Linked DNA regions of Homo sapiens. The protein of the gene in region 1 interacts with the protein of each later gene in a pairwise test. Each region holds a gene or a part of one and is shown on either strand. Other genes may lie near its edges.

The links. The genes of interacting proteins can lie anywhere in the genome.
Region 2: the proteins of ERG28 (region 1) and SCN3B interact in binary tests that used the Homo sapiens proteins (3 or more experiments, as listed by UniProt).

What each region holds. Positions count from the first base shown.
Region 1 is NC_000014.9:75,657,872-75,665,379, reverse strand, and holds the start of ERG28 (ergosterol biosynthetic protein 28 homolog), read left to right. Parts: upstream 1-4,503; 5' UTR 4,504-4,605; intron 4,606-7,508. Other genes in the region: tubulin polyglutamylase TTLL5, read right to left, coding at 2,157-2,230.
Region 2 is NC_000011.10:123,630,613-123,637,647, forward strand, and holds part of SCN3B (sodium channel regulatory subunit beta-3 precursor), read right to left. Parts: intron 3,595-7,035; coding exon 3,531-3,594; 3' UTR 3,509-3,530; intron 3,165-3,508; 3' UTR 1-3,164. UniProt on the Homo sapiens protein: Regulatory subunit of multiple voltage-gated sodium (Nav) channels directly mediating the depolarization of excitable membranes.

The DNA.
Region 1 (7,508 bases):
CTTCCCAGTACCCCCGACCTATGATTGTTAATCAAAGGCCACCCTCCCAGTGTACTGATCTTACACAAACTAAACAAAAACAGTCTTCATGTTGTTGTCTTTAGAAAACAAAATTTAACTTTCCCAGATTTGAAATGATCTTATTATTTAATGTATTAGTAAAACAGCACATATTACTATGTTACAAATGTGTTTTAATAACTGCATTTGAATGTAATTAGTACTCTTTGTAATAATATGTATTTTATTTTAAGCCTTAAAAACATTATTCTGGTAAGGAATCCATGGCATAAAAAAGTTAACAACTCTGATCTAAGGTAATGTAAAGTATAAAGCCTTCATTTATTCCTTCATTTCGTTATTCAGTCAGCAAGAATTTACTAAGTACCTACTATAATATTAGGTCAAACTATCTGCAATCGTCAGTATTTGACTGTTTCTGACCTACCAAAATGGCAGTTTCATATAGTTCAATCTAACATTTGTCAGGCCCAATCTGTAAACCCACTAATAAGAGAGACAGTAATGGAGTAAAAGAACAACCTTTAAAAAGGGAAAGACTGATACTTGCAGCAGAAGTTAAAAGTTTTATGAAATGGGTAAGAGGCAGCACACCGAAAGCAAAAAGTCAGAAGAAGGGAAAGTAACCAGAGGGAATTATCCATTTAATTATCCTGAACAAGAATGACCCAAATATACTTTCAAATCTCTATTAGTTTCTATGACCTAACAGTGATAAGAAACGTTTCCTCAAAGCTTTCTTAATGCTTCAACAATTTTTTTCAAATTACAAGTAATCTTGTATCTTACAAGAAGCCCACCATAAATTCAATATTAAAACCAGTAAAAATAATGCCTTACATTTGTATAGCACTTACAAAGTAATTTCACATACATTATGCTATTTGAGTCTAACCAGACCCCTACAAAATAGCCTGGGAGATATTATCTCTATTTTTCAGGTTACATAGCACACACATATCCAAAAGGACTCAGGGAGAATCTTAAAAATGAATTTTACCTTTAAACCAGATTCTCTCTTTACTCTGTGTCAAGCAATAATTAAAGGAGGCAAAAGAGCAAAGTGATCAAAATCCAGAAAAGCTAAGTCCAAATCTCAATGCATCACTTACTCTCTATGGGTCACTGAGGAAATTTCCTGATAAGACTGAGTTTAAAAAAGTGAAAATAATAACACCTTCAGATTTAAAAAGATATAAGATATAGATGAGATAAAGCCTTTATCGTCATCTGTAGTAGCTATATTTATCATTATCATTCTTTTTTTTTTTTTTGAGATGGAGGTTTGCTCTTGTTGCCCGGGCTGGAGTGCAATGGTGAGATCTCAGCTCACTGCAACCTCCACCTCCCAGGTTCAAGCCATTCTCCTGTCTCAGCCTCCCGAGTAGCTGAGATTACAGATACCCACCATCACGCCCAGCTAATTTCTGTTTTTTTAGTAGAGATGGGGTTTCACCATGTTGGCCAGGCTGGTCTTGAACTCCTGACCTCAGGTGATCCGCTCACCTCGGCTACCCAAAGTGCTGGGATTACAGGCATAAGCCAACACACCTAGCTATTATTCATTCTTATTGTGATGATCCAGTAATCATGAAATTGGACTCTTAACTAAAAGAACTCAGGAAAGCAGTGTGGGTCAATGGACACAACACAGGCTATAGAACTCTAATATCCTGCCTCAGAGTTACTATGGTAAGTTACCTGACCTCTCTATATTACCACCATTTTATCATTGTAAAGGCTTTTGAGAAAATTAGCAAACGTAACTAATGTTGTAGAGTTTGGACATGCTTTTCTTCAATACTTAAACATTTCAAAATCTTCTGTTGGGAGTTCTGAGCAAGAGTTCACCAAGAGCTACTACTTGCATTTTACAACATCTAGAGCTGATGTTCACTTATGGGCCCAGAAAGAGAGCCTTATCTCATTTCTCATAGCTGATAGGGACTGAGTAACAAGACCTTAAATGACATTATGGATAGAAGCTAAAACCAGAGTTAGATAATCCCCAAGGAATGACACTAGATAAAAGAGTACATAAGTAAAAGAGAAGAGTATATAGTAAAACAGTATATAAGAGTATATAAGTGAAAGAGTACAAAGCACAGGTTGAAAGCAGGCTTGCTATTACTTACTCTTGACTTATGACCTCCTCATCCTCTGAGGATGATGCTGTTTCCTCCAGGTCCCGGGCCATCACGATTGGCATTTCCTTTAGGGTTTGTCATGCAGTCAGCAGACGGGGGCCTCAGAGACCTTTCCTAGCAGATTCACTGGATCAAGCAATTTGGATGGCACAGATTCCTGCAAGAAATCAACTTGATTGGATCAATTGACCTGAAACACAATGCAGTTGTCTATTTATTGGTTATTGCTGATAATCTAAGTAATGAAAATGACTATATTCCTAAACAGTGCTCAACCTCTAGAAGTTTACTTTCCATAACATATGGAATGTGCCTCAATATGTGCCTCAATATGCCACAAAAATCAAGATTTTTTTCAAACATACAGTCTGTGCTCTATATATTTGAAGAGCTGTTACTAAGTTTGAGTTTCTCATTATTTACTAAATCGAATATGCACCAAAAGGATAGACTCCTCACTTTCACTCAGTTTGAGGCAGGTGACTGATTCCCTAAAACATATATTCCTTGCTAGACAAACCTGGCCTGGGTTAAAAATAAATAAATAAAAACTCAAGGTTTAAGACCCTTGCAGGCCGGGCAGGGTGGCTCACGCCTGTAATCCCAGTACTTTGGGAGGCCAAGGCGGGCGGATCACCTGAGGTCGGGAGTTCGAGACCAGCCTGACTAACATGGAGAAACCCCGTCTTTACTAAAAAAAAAAAAAAAAAATACAAAAAATTAGCCGGGTGTGCTGGCTCATGCCTGTAATCCCAGCTACTCGGGAGGCTGAGGGAGGAGAATCGCTTGAACCCGGGAGGCGGAGGTTGCGGTGAGCCAAGATCGCGCCATTGCACTCCAGCCTGGGCAACAAGAGTGAACTCCGTCTCAAAAAAAAAAAAACAACAAAAAACCCCTGCCAACATTTATTTAGACTCTATGACAAGCACGCTGACAAGATGCCATCATGTTTCCAGTAAAATAAATTCAACAATGAACCGAAAGATGAATATATTCTCTTGAATCAAAGGTCCATATAAATAGGTGGGGGAGGGGAGGAATGCCCTTCCACTCTTAAAAATTATTCTTCCTAAAAATCACAAAGTTTGGTACGACTCTCAAATAGACGATGAAATTAGGAAATTTCCAACACTGCATTTCTAACTTAAAATATTTTTTCTAAAGTAAAAAAGTACATGTTCGTTGTGTGTGTCAGAAGAAGAAATAGGAACTACAAATAAAAGAAACATGTTTAAATGACCATAATCCCAAATTACTCAGCGATAATTACTTGCTGTCAATCCTTCTTAACTTTTCCATGCATTCATAAATACGATGAGACTGTAAATAAGACAAAAAAAAAACAGACCCCGATAATGATCAAAGATCTTCGGCGCAATAGGCAATGTCTAACAACTTCAATGGCTTTCTTCAGGGGATTCTCAACGGGATTTCTTGATCTTTCCCAAAATGCTGGGAAGCCCTTTAAGTTTAAACAAACAAAACCTCCAAACGGGAAGGGATGCCAACCTCTCCTAGGCTGCCTGCAGAGCGGGGAGAAACAGGTCTATCGGAAGAAGAGTAGAGATACTCACCTAAGGAGACTCCTCTCCCGAAAGGAATCTGCTTCTCAGCCCCACCCCCAGCTCACCCCAATCCCACGTAGGTCCGCAGATGCTCCCCCCGGGAAGGACGGGACGACCCCGCAGCCGCGATTCAACGCGGCGCGCCCGGAAGCCAACAGCTACTCCCGGGCTCTGAGCGGGAAGTCCTGCTGCAGGCGCCAGCCCGGACCCGGGAATGCTCCTCCCTAGGGTAGGGAAGCGCGCGGGCGCAGGCGTTTACCTGTCTCATCTTCCCATGGTTCGGGGCGAGCAGGCGTGGACCGCGCTCTGCGCCTACCTCCCTCCTCCTTCCCCAGGAAGGCTCAGGGCAGCCGCCGACGGCTGCTTCCCCGGTTACTACAACAACCAACAAGCAACCGCCCGCTCGGAGCCACTGCGCAGGCGCTCATAACGCTCAGCTGCGGACGCGGGCGAATGTCGTCACCGCCGCGCAGCGCGGGCGCAGAGCCCTGCCCTCAGCTGAAGGGAGTCTTCTTTTTTTTTTTTTTTTCCGCTGTTTTTTTCTCCGCCCCTAAGAGGTTGACTCCAAACCCGGAGTTCCGCTAGGTCCAACAGGAGGGCTTACGGCGTGAGCGGCGTACCTGGGGAGAGGCTTAGGCAGCGGCAACCGCTGATTGGCAGTAAAGGGGTTCACTCCCCATCTCCTGCTCGGGCGAAACCGGGACAGCCAATCAGAGAGAGTACTGACGGAAACGGCCCAATCCTGGAGCAGGGCTGAGGGAGGGGGCGGGGACAAATGGCTCAGGTGGACTCCGGGCTGGAGCTGTCCTGGGGGAGCTTGTTTGCGGCAGCGGCTGCTGCTGCCACTGCTGTGCTGGGGGCCCGGTCGCCAGGTAAGGAGAATATGGGGGAGAAGAGGGATGTAGGTGTCTGTGTTGCTTCTGATTGAGAGGATCCGGAGAGTCTGGAAAAATGGAGGTGGGATGGAAGGAAGATAACTGGAAGGCAACCTTTTGGGGGGAAAAGGTTTCGAGAGGCGATGACAAGGGGGAGCTAGGAAGATGGAGAAGGCTTGGTGAATTCAAGGAACGAAGGAATGGATGAGCGAATGAGCAGCCACTATGAGCCTAGCACTGTACAAAGAGCCTTCACTTTTTGTCATATAATTCTTACAATAGCCCTTCGGGTTGATATTTCTATCTCCATTTTGCAGATGAGGAAACCGAGACTGAAAAGTGTAAATGACTTACCCAGGGTCACACAGCTACTAAGTGGTAGGGCCAGGATAAGAATCCCTTTCTCCTGATTAAGTTTTAACAGCACACCTATGCTGGGCTGGGCTTGGCTGGGCTGGGCCAGGGCCAGGACAAAATTTGGAAATAGATGTTGTATACACTCTAAGAGGCCCTTAAGCTTTAGGGAAATTAGGTTGAGAAATTGGCAGAGCAATTCAGAAGTGCTCAGGCTCTGTCCTCATCAGCTATCTGTTGGGATTTCTAACAGATAACACTTCTGTGAAATGGAAGGCATACTTGTGCAGAAAAGTGGAGAGGTGCATCCATGCAGCTTTTCTAAACCCCGGAGGAGTCTCCTCTTGAGAGAGAGTGAGAAAATAAAGAGGATGGGTGGATCTTGGCCCAAATGATAATGGCCTGTGATGTCCAGTAGACCCTCAGTCTCTCTGATCTTCGACAGAGACCACCTTTGTGATCCAGCTCTCCCTGAAGGGCTCATCAATTCACCCTTCCTTCTCTAGATCTCTTTATTGCTTGTTTGGGGCGGGGAGTTGGCGGGGGGGGGCGGCGGTGTTTCACACTGTCTTGGGCCATTGCTGACTTTAATATCTGTCCCACTGGGTAGCAGAGAACAATACCGAAACTTGTATTGCCAAAGTGACAAAGAAAGCCTGTTAGTTTATTACCACTTCAGGCCCAAGAGGTTAACCTGACAACAGATAAACCGTGGACCAAGAAAATAATAATGAGGATGGGAAAAAGTCATTCCATTATTAGATTATTTATCTATTTTGGTTTTATTTAAATCAGACTAACTGAAATTACTACTCAACAAGAGTTGAACTAAGCCTTAAAAAAAAAAAAAAAAAGGCTGGGTGCTGTAGCTCACACCTGTAATCCCAGCATTTGGGAGGCGAGGCCAAGGTGAGTGGATCAGTTGAGCCCAAGTGGAGAGGTTGAGGTAGGAGGATCACTTAAGCCTTTGATTTCAAGGCTGCAATGAGCCATGACTATGCCACTGCATTCCAGCCTGTGTGACAGAGCAAGACCCTGTCTCAAAAAAATAAATAAATAAATAATAAATTAAAAAACAAAAAGTATGTAATCTAATTGTATTTTCCATACAACTTGAAGACAAAAGTGGATATGGTATGCTTTTCTTTCTCAAAAAATGGGAACTTCATTAAAATAGTCTCAAACAATGAGGTAGCACTGCAGCAGTCCAGCAGACCATGATTCTTATCTCAGCTCTGCCAACTTTGCTGTGTGACCTTAAGAAACTTGTTTAACCTCTCTGTTCCAACCCTCATCTGTAAGATGGAAATATTAATAGTGCCTGCTTACCTCATTGTAAAGATTAAATGGTAATATATGTTAGGTGCTTGGCACAGTTCACGGTGTAAGTGCTCAATGACTGAAACCTATTATTTTCTTGCAACCCAACACCAAGATTGCTGTTTCCTTCGCTATATAATTTTCTTACTAGTCCTAAACTCACACGTTAACTTAAACACACACAATTTATAAATTTGGAAAAAAGGAAAAGAGGCTTTATCTCTTGCAAAGGGTTACAGCCACCCAACAGGGAAGAGTGCCTCCCACCAAGACCAGAGACAGTTACTTTGAAGGAGAAGGGTTTGGGGTAGAGCTTCATGCTGAACAGGTTTGCTAAACATACACATTCGACAGGTTACAGGAGGAGCTGTGAATATTCCTGAAGGTTGTCCTGACACATGCATATTGAACAAACATATGTAACCACATATGAACCCTGTTCACTTTGGAGTGGAGACCTAACATTTAAGTCTATCACACCTAGGCTCTATACGTCAAAAAGTCTTTTCAGGACACCAAGACACTCAAGTGTGTGATCCTGCTAAACTGGCCAGGAGCAGTCCACGGTTGGTGGTCTTATCTGGAGAAAATTACTGAAATCAGTCTCTTGTCCAATCAAAGCTGTAGTTACAACTGGTGGAACAGGGGTCAGGTAGTCAGCCTCTGTGAGCTGGATGAGCTGCAATTGTTTTAATATTGCTTATCTCAAGGCCAGTGTTCATCTAGCTGCTGGAGAAAAAAAAAACCTTGTGGCAGAATATAACTTTTATTCTTTAAATGTAGGAGTGTGTAACTTAACCCTTGCCTGGCATGGCCTTAGGTCTTGTTTATAATTTGGTATCTTATTGCACAAAGAATCTGTTGTGTCATTCTTATGATCTCTATTTTAACTTTAATGCTGGTAAGTTGCTGTCTCTAAACCTGAAAACACAACGAATATAACAGGGCATGTCAGACCTCCCATCTTGTCATGGCCAGGAGCTCAGTTTTAGGATTTTTCTGGGGTCCCCTAGGCCAAGAGGGGCTCTGTTCAGTCCGTGATGGGCTTAGGATTTTATTTGGAGTTGACACACAGCAGTTTATTTTTAACTTTTAGATTGTTCTTCTAGTTTATGGAGCATGGTATACCTGAGAACCAGAGTCCAGAAAACCTAGGGATGTAAATAGTGACCTCACACCATAAGTCCTACTCAAATTTATAAAGTTCCATACACTTGGAAGAATCC
Region 2 (7,035 bases), on another chromosome or scaffold:
TCACAGTACCTTATTGATTTACAGTCATTATCAAATCTCCCAGGAAGGAGTTTAATTGCAATTCAGGAGAAATAATGATGTACAAACCAACTAGAAAGAGAACCAAAATAGGACTGACTCTCAAAGCACATTGCTAGCATCCACCAAAAAGCAAAGTGGTAGAGAAGCAGTGAGTGGGATTAGGGGTGAGAGAAGATGGAGAACATTAGGACAGGCAAGATAGGCAATGGTTAGATGGAAGCTAAAAAATAAGAAAAGGAAGCAGCTATGGTCTAAGTGGAAAGAGAACTGAAAGAGGAGTCAGAAGACCTGGATTCTTGCTGTCTACCTACCAGCTAGGTTTCCTTATAATTTAGTAAAGCTACTTAACCTCAGAGACCCTCAGTTTCTTCTTTTGTAATGTGACCTCACAGGACCAGTTATAGAGAAGAAATAAAATAGTTAAGTGAAAATACTTCGTAAACCATATAGTTCTAATGAAAGTGTCAAGAATGAGAAGAATGGAGAAGTTAGAAAAAGGAAGAGTGGGGAAGATAACCTGTCAAGGATAAATAAGTGATAGATACCATTCAGCTTCATTAAAAGCCACGCAAGCAGCATCTGAGTTGGGTTTTTTTAAAAAGAAGAGAAAAAGGCAATCATGCATACTGCCGGGTTCAACTTAGATACACGAGCTATTGGGCCACCGAGGAAAACGGTGTGGTAGTAAGCATCTTGCTACTACCGCAAGCTGGTGGCATCCATGAGCTATGGGACTGGAAAAATTTCACACTGAGGCCAATTTTTCTAACTATAAAGTTAAAAAGGTCTATATCCTCTCCCTTATTTCAGAGGGATTGTGTGGAAAATTACCAATAAGAAGAGTCTTGAATTTATTGCAAATATTTTCTTCAACAAAATCAGACTCTTTAATGTGTTAACGGTCTGGTTTTGGGCCAGGCACAGTTGCTCAGGCCTGTAATCCCAGCACTTTGAGAGGCTGAGGCTGGCAGATTGCTTGAGCCCAGGAGTTCAAGATCAGCCTGGGCGACATGGCAAGACCCCTGTCTCTACATAAAATACAAAAATTAGCCAGGCATGGTGGTGCATGCCTGTAGTCCCAGTTACCTGGGGGCTGAGGTGGGAGGATTGCTTAAACCTGGGGCAGTTGAGGCTGCAGTGAGCTGAGATTGCACCACTGCACTCTAGCCTGGGAGACAGAGTGAGAATCTGTCTCAAAAAAATAATAATAAATAAATAAAAATTTAAAAGTCTGGTTTTAAGTACTTTCCTAGGGATGGAAGAATGAAAAAAATGAGCTTTTAAGGTAAAGCCCTAAACCTATGGAATATGGTCTTTCCCTATAAAGGGAGGTCCCAGGTCTGAGGGACCTCTCTCTCGCTGAATCCCAGTCACCTTCATCTTCTTACATTCCATAAAGCATCTTTCCCCTCTCTTGTCCCTGGGTGCTGAAGGATGTCACACTTGGACCTGTCACTTAATTAAAATGAAACACGAGATATTGACTAAAGTTTTTTCCAGTTTCTCTGCTCCCTCAAAATCTAGGGGAAAAAAATCTGAAAATTATGCATTCATAGGCGAAGTATTTGGAAAGCACCTACCCATCCCTCCCCTCTCACACTGCTCATTTACTTATGATCCATCTCAGACTAAACATTTTTCTTAGTTTAAATATCAGTCTCAGATGCACTCTCCTTTTGGAGGATATTTCAGAGTCACAGATCTTTACATAAAGGAAGTTCTTTAAGTCTACCTCATGTTCTTCTCCCTGCTTTTTTGGCCAATTTCTAGTCATCTGAATCTATCAGAGTTGACCTCAGCCCAGTCCGTGCTTGTGAAAGAAGCATTGCCATAGACAAGTTCAATGTCAGTCTTTTCAGAAACAAAGTTATCCACCGGGCGCAGTGCCTCACGCCTGTAATCTCAGCACTTTGGGAGGCTGAGGTGGGTGGGTCATTTGAGGTCAGGAGTTCAAGACTAGCCTGGCCAACATAGTCAAACCCTGTCTGTACTAAAAATACAAAATTTAGCCAGGCGTGGTGGTGCACACCTGTAATCCCAGCTACTGGAGAGGCCGAGGCATGAGAATTGCTTGAACCCAAGAGGCAGAGGTTGCAGTGAGCCGAGATCACACCACTGCACTCTAGCCTAGGTGACAGAGTGAGACTCCATCTCAAACAAAAAAAACAAAAAACAAAACAAACAAAAACATCCATCCCAGGAAGTGTAAACTGGGCAGCACCTAAGGCTTATTTCTGCTCCAGTTTATCCTCTTAAGCCTCTTATTCAGTTGAGCCCTGTATGAGTCTTAGTTGCCTCCTGTATGTAAAATGAGGAATAATACTGGTGCACAGAAATTTTGAGAGGAAGAACTCAGGAATTTCAGTCCTAATGCCCAGGTGGTGTGCCCACAGGGAGGGCACACATACATTATCGCAATAGGATCAGGAACGTGTCCAGAAACATGTTGCATGACTTTTTAAGAGCCACTTAAATTACCATTGGTCCTTCCCAAGTCTCCTGTCCTTGTCTTCTTGGAGGGAACCTTAGAGACCCATCAGGATCTAGCTCTGGAGTACTAAGCTCCAGAGAGCATGTTAGTCCATGCTTCAGGATCTTTCTGTCACTGGAGAACCTAGACAGGCGTGCTTCACTCTGATGCTGTAGCAAAGTGGGCCATGAACCTGACAAAACTGACTTCAGGGAATCCAAGTTCATGACACACTTTTGCTTTAACCCGAACTAATCACTCCTGCTTCCTTCTATTAAGACTTCCATTCTCTTGCAGTAATGGAGAATGAACCAGTTCCAGCCAGTTAAGGGCAGAGGGAGGTGCTAACTCCAGCACTTGTACAAAGTCATTTGGAGCACAGGGGAGAAATCCAGTTGGCTTTGGAGTGTCTTGTTGGAAAACTAGGAGAGGGTGAGGTTGAGTCTATGTAGAAATGTTGGCTTCTCAGTTCTGGCAGAGTCTTATGGTGCGTAGAGGTCTGATGGAGTTAGGGAGTCAGAGGTGAAAGCTCAGAGGCAGGTGGATGTATGGATGAATGAATGAACAGAACAATGGATGCATGAAGGGAAGCGATGGGGCCCTTGGGGCGCCCTCCTGATGCCATTGACATTGCTGAACATGGGATGTCCAGTCCCTCAGGTGTTCAGGCCACCTACCAAAGATAAAATAACTCACTGAGAATTTCCCACCCAGTCCAGCCCAGCCCAGCCCAAAAATTCTTTGACCAAAGAAGGGAGTTGGAGAATCCTGTGCCTCTGTTACCATGGGCAAGTTCAGATTGCCTCGACACTCAGGTCAAAGCAGTTCACCTTCCGAAGCGCTGACATCATACAGAGCTTTCTGACTTAAAGAATTACCCTGAGGGCGGGGACCCCAGGCAGGGTAGACAGTGACCTAAGGGACCAAATTTAAAGTCACTTCAGTTGTGGGCAACAAAGTCACTTGTACAACCTGCCATCCACATCTGCCTTCCCCTCCCATGTTCCTGTAGGTCACCTCATGTCACACTGCTCCTGTTCTATTCCTCCACTGGTACCGCAGAGTTCTCCTTGTTCTCAGATGGGATGGCAAGGTAGTCAGACCTATAGAGGACACAGGGAAAGGGAATCAGAGCTTCAGTGCCCAGCGTGGGAACACAAGATGGGGAAGGAGCAGGGCACAGGAGCAAGGATCTACAGAACAGCTCTGCATTTCCTTCTGCTGTGTTTCTCAAGAGAAAAACAACCTTTTCTGCAGATTAAAATAATCATTTCCCCCATATATGTACACGAACACCCACCAGGAGTGTATAGCTTCTCATTTATCCAGGTTGTCTTCAGCATTTAGTTAGATTATTATGTTGGCCAAGGCTCATGCCTCTAATCCCAGCACTTTGGGAGGCCAAGGCAGGAAAATTGCTTGAGCCCAGGAGTTCAAGACCAGCCTGGGCAACATGGTGAAACCCTGTCTCTACAAAAAATACAAAAAACTAGCCTGGCATGGTGGCACGTGCCTGTAGTCCCAGCTACTTGGGAGGCTGAGGTGGGAGGATCACCTGAGCCTGGGAGGTCGAGGCCATGATTGCACCACTGCACTCCAGCCTGGCAACAGTGAGACCATGTCTCAAAAATAAAATAAAATGTTGGTCAAAATGACAGCTGTGAAATTATATTTTATAGTTGTTTCACATGTTTACAGGCTATTTGGGTTTCTGCTTCTGAAATTTGTTCATCTGCTTTCCAGTTCTTCTGAGATCTTTGTCTTTTTCTCATTGATTTTCCTTTGATGCTTTCATGTTTTGACAATTTCTCCCAATCTCTTGTTTGTCTAGGAATTTTGCTTATGGAGTCTTCTAATGAACAGCTGATTCTTTACATATAATGTGATCAAAATTATTTTTCCTCTTGGATTTGTGCCTTTTGTATTTTATTTGGGAAATCCTCTCTATTGCATGGTGATAAAGAGAGTCTCTTATATTCCCTTAATGGAATTTTCAAGTTTGACATTTTACTTTGTGTTTAAATCCCCTCATAATTTATTTTGGTTTAGTATGAGAGATGGGGAATCTAATTTTGTTTTGTGTTTTTCTTTGTTTCTATATAGATTAGGAATTTTCCCTAGACCACTTACTGGGCAGTTCATTCTTCCTTCAATCACTGTAACGTCATCTCTCTCACATATCAGGTTTTCCTACATGCATTAACCTGATTGGTGGCTTTTTGTTTTGTTTGTCCATTTCGTATGCCTGTGCAGTATCACAAACTCTGTATTCTGATAGCTCTGTAAGAAACCTTCATCTGGCTGGGCGCAGTGGCTCACACCTGTAATCCCAGCACTTTGAGAGGCCAAGGCGGGTGCATCACGAGGTCAGGAGATTGAGACCATCCTGGCTAACATGGTGAAATCCCGTCTCTACTAAAAAAATACAAAAAATTAGCCAGGCGTGGTGGCAGGTGCCTGTAGTCCCAGCTACTCGGGAGGCTGAGGCAGGAGAATGGCGTGAACCTGGGAGGCAGAGCTTGGAGTGAGCCGAGATCGCGCCACTGCACTCCAGCCTGGGCAACAGAGCGAGACTCTGTCTCAAAAAAAAAAAAAGAAAACAAAGGAAACCTTCATCTCCGATAAGACAAATCCTACCAACCTCTTGCAAATTTACTGCTCTTTCTTTGAAATGGTTTAGACCGAGGGTGGGCAAACTGTGGCCTAAGAGCTAAGGATGGTTGTTTGCAAACAAATAGAAGAACAATACATGACAGGGACCTATGGCGCCTGCAAAGCCTAAAACACTTATTATCTGGCTGTCCCTTGGTTAAGACTATTTTTGGCTACTTAGCCTTCCATGTGACTTAATATCAGCTTATTAAGTTCTTTGAGAAATCTAATGGGCATTTTGATTGGGATTTCATTGAATTTGAAGATCAATTTGGGAGAAAATTGTTTACAATTGTGAGGTTTTACTCTCCATCTAGTTACGTTTAAAGTCTTTCAGTAAAGGTTTCTAACTTTTTCTTTAAATGTCTTGTATATTTTTGTCAAATTTATCCCCGGAACTGGGGAGTACTTCTTGCTATTGTAACTTTAAAAGCATTTTAATATTTTAAATATTTAAATTTGTTACTAAATTTGTTGCTGGAATATAGGTGATTTTTATATTTTGATTTCTATCAACAATTTTGTGGAATATTCTTCCTTGTCCTAATAGTATTTTTGTAGATTCTCTTAGGTATCCTATGTAAATAGTAGGTATAGATAATGATAATTTAGTTTCTTCCTTTCCAAGTCTTTTTCTTCCTTGTATTTACTTGGTCTTCACCTAGGATTTCCAACACAATATTGATAGAAACAGGGAGAGGCAGTCTCCTTGATATGTCCCTGATATTACAGGCACTTGAGGTTTCAACACATAGATGATATTTGCTGTAGGGTCTCTTAGTAGCTGCCATTTATCACTTTAAAGATGCTTGGTGTTTAGGTGTAGATGTATTTTATTCATCCTGCTCAGGGCATATTATGCTTCTTGAATCTGAAGAGTCATCCCTCCCTCAGCCGTTCTGTCTCTGAACACTGTCTCTCCTCCATTCTCTGTTCTATTCTGTTTTTTTTTTTTTGAGATGGAGTCTCGCTCTGTCGCCGAGGCTGGAGGGCAGTGCCGTGATCTCGGCTCACTGCAAGCTCCGCCTCCCAGGTTCACGCCATTCTCCTGCCTCAGCCTCCTGAGTAGCTGGGACTACAGGCACCCGCCACCATGCCCGGCTAATTTTTTGTAGTTTTAGTAGAGACAGGGTTTCACCATGTTAACCAGGATGTCTCGATCTCCTGACCTCATGATCTGCCTGCCTCGACCTCCCAAAGTGCTGGGATTACAGACGAGAGCCACCGCGCCCGGCCAAAATGATGCTTTCTTTATCAAACATTTCTAACTGGTAATAGCCTAGACTGTTTTCGGTTTGCCTCAGCAATGTTGCTAGAAATCTGTGGGTTTTTTCTATCTTTCCTTTCCCCAGACAACCAGCCAGCATGATCTCTTAAGACTCTTTGTTCTTACAGACCCCACCGTTTCTCAAATGTGCTCACCCTCAAGTGACTAGAGTCTCTGAGCAAATGGCTAAGGTACAGGCTGGACTTTAGAGGATTAGAGTCCCCACTCTGGACATCTAAGCGCTGCCAGGCTCTAGGGGAAATAACATGTTGCTTGGAGCTCCTTTGCTAGCAAAGGGCAGTGCCCAGATGGCCTGAGGAGCTCCATGGTATAAAGCAAACAGTTCAATGAGATAGAAAGAGCATGGACATTAGCACTAGAGAGACCTGGGTTCAAATCTCAGCCTTTCCTCTTACCATCTGTGTGCCTTGGTAAGCTGCTATGAGTCGGCTTGGCATTTACAGAACGGTTATAATAATGTTACTTTTTTGTTGTGTTTTTGGGCTTTTATTGTTGTTGTTTTTGAAATGGAGTCTCGCTCTGTCACCCAAGCTGGAGAGCAGTGGCACGATCTCAGCTCACTGCAACCTCCGCCTCCCAGGTTCAAGGGATTCTCCTGCCTCAG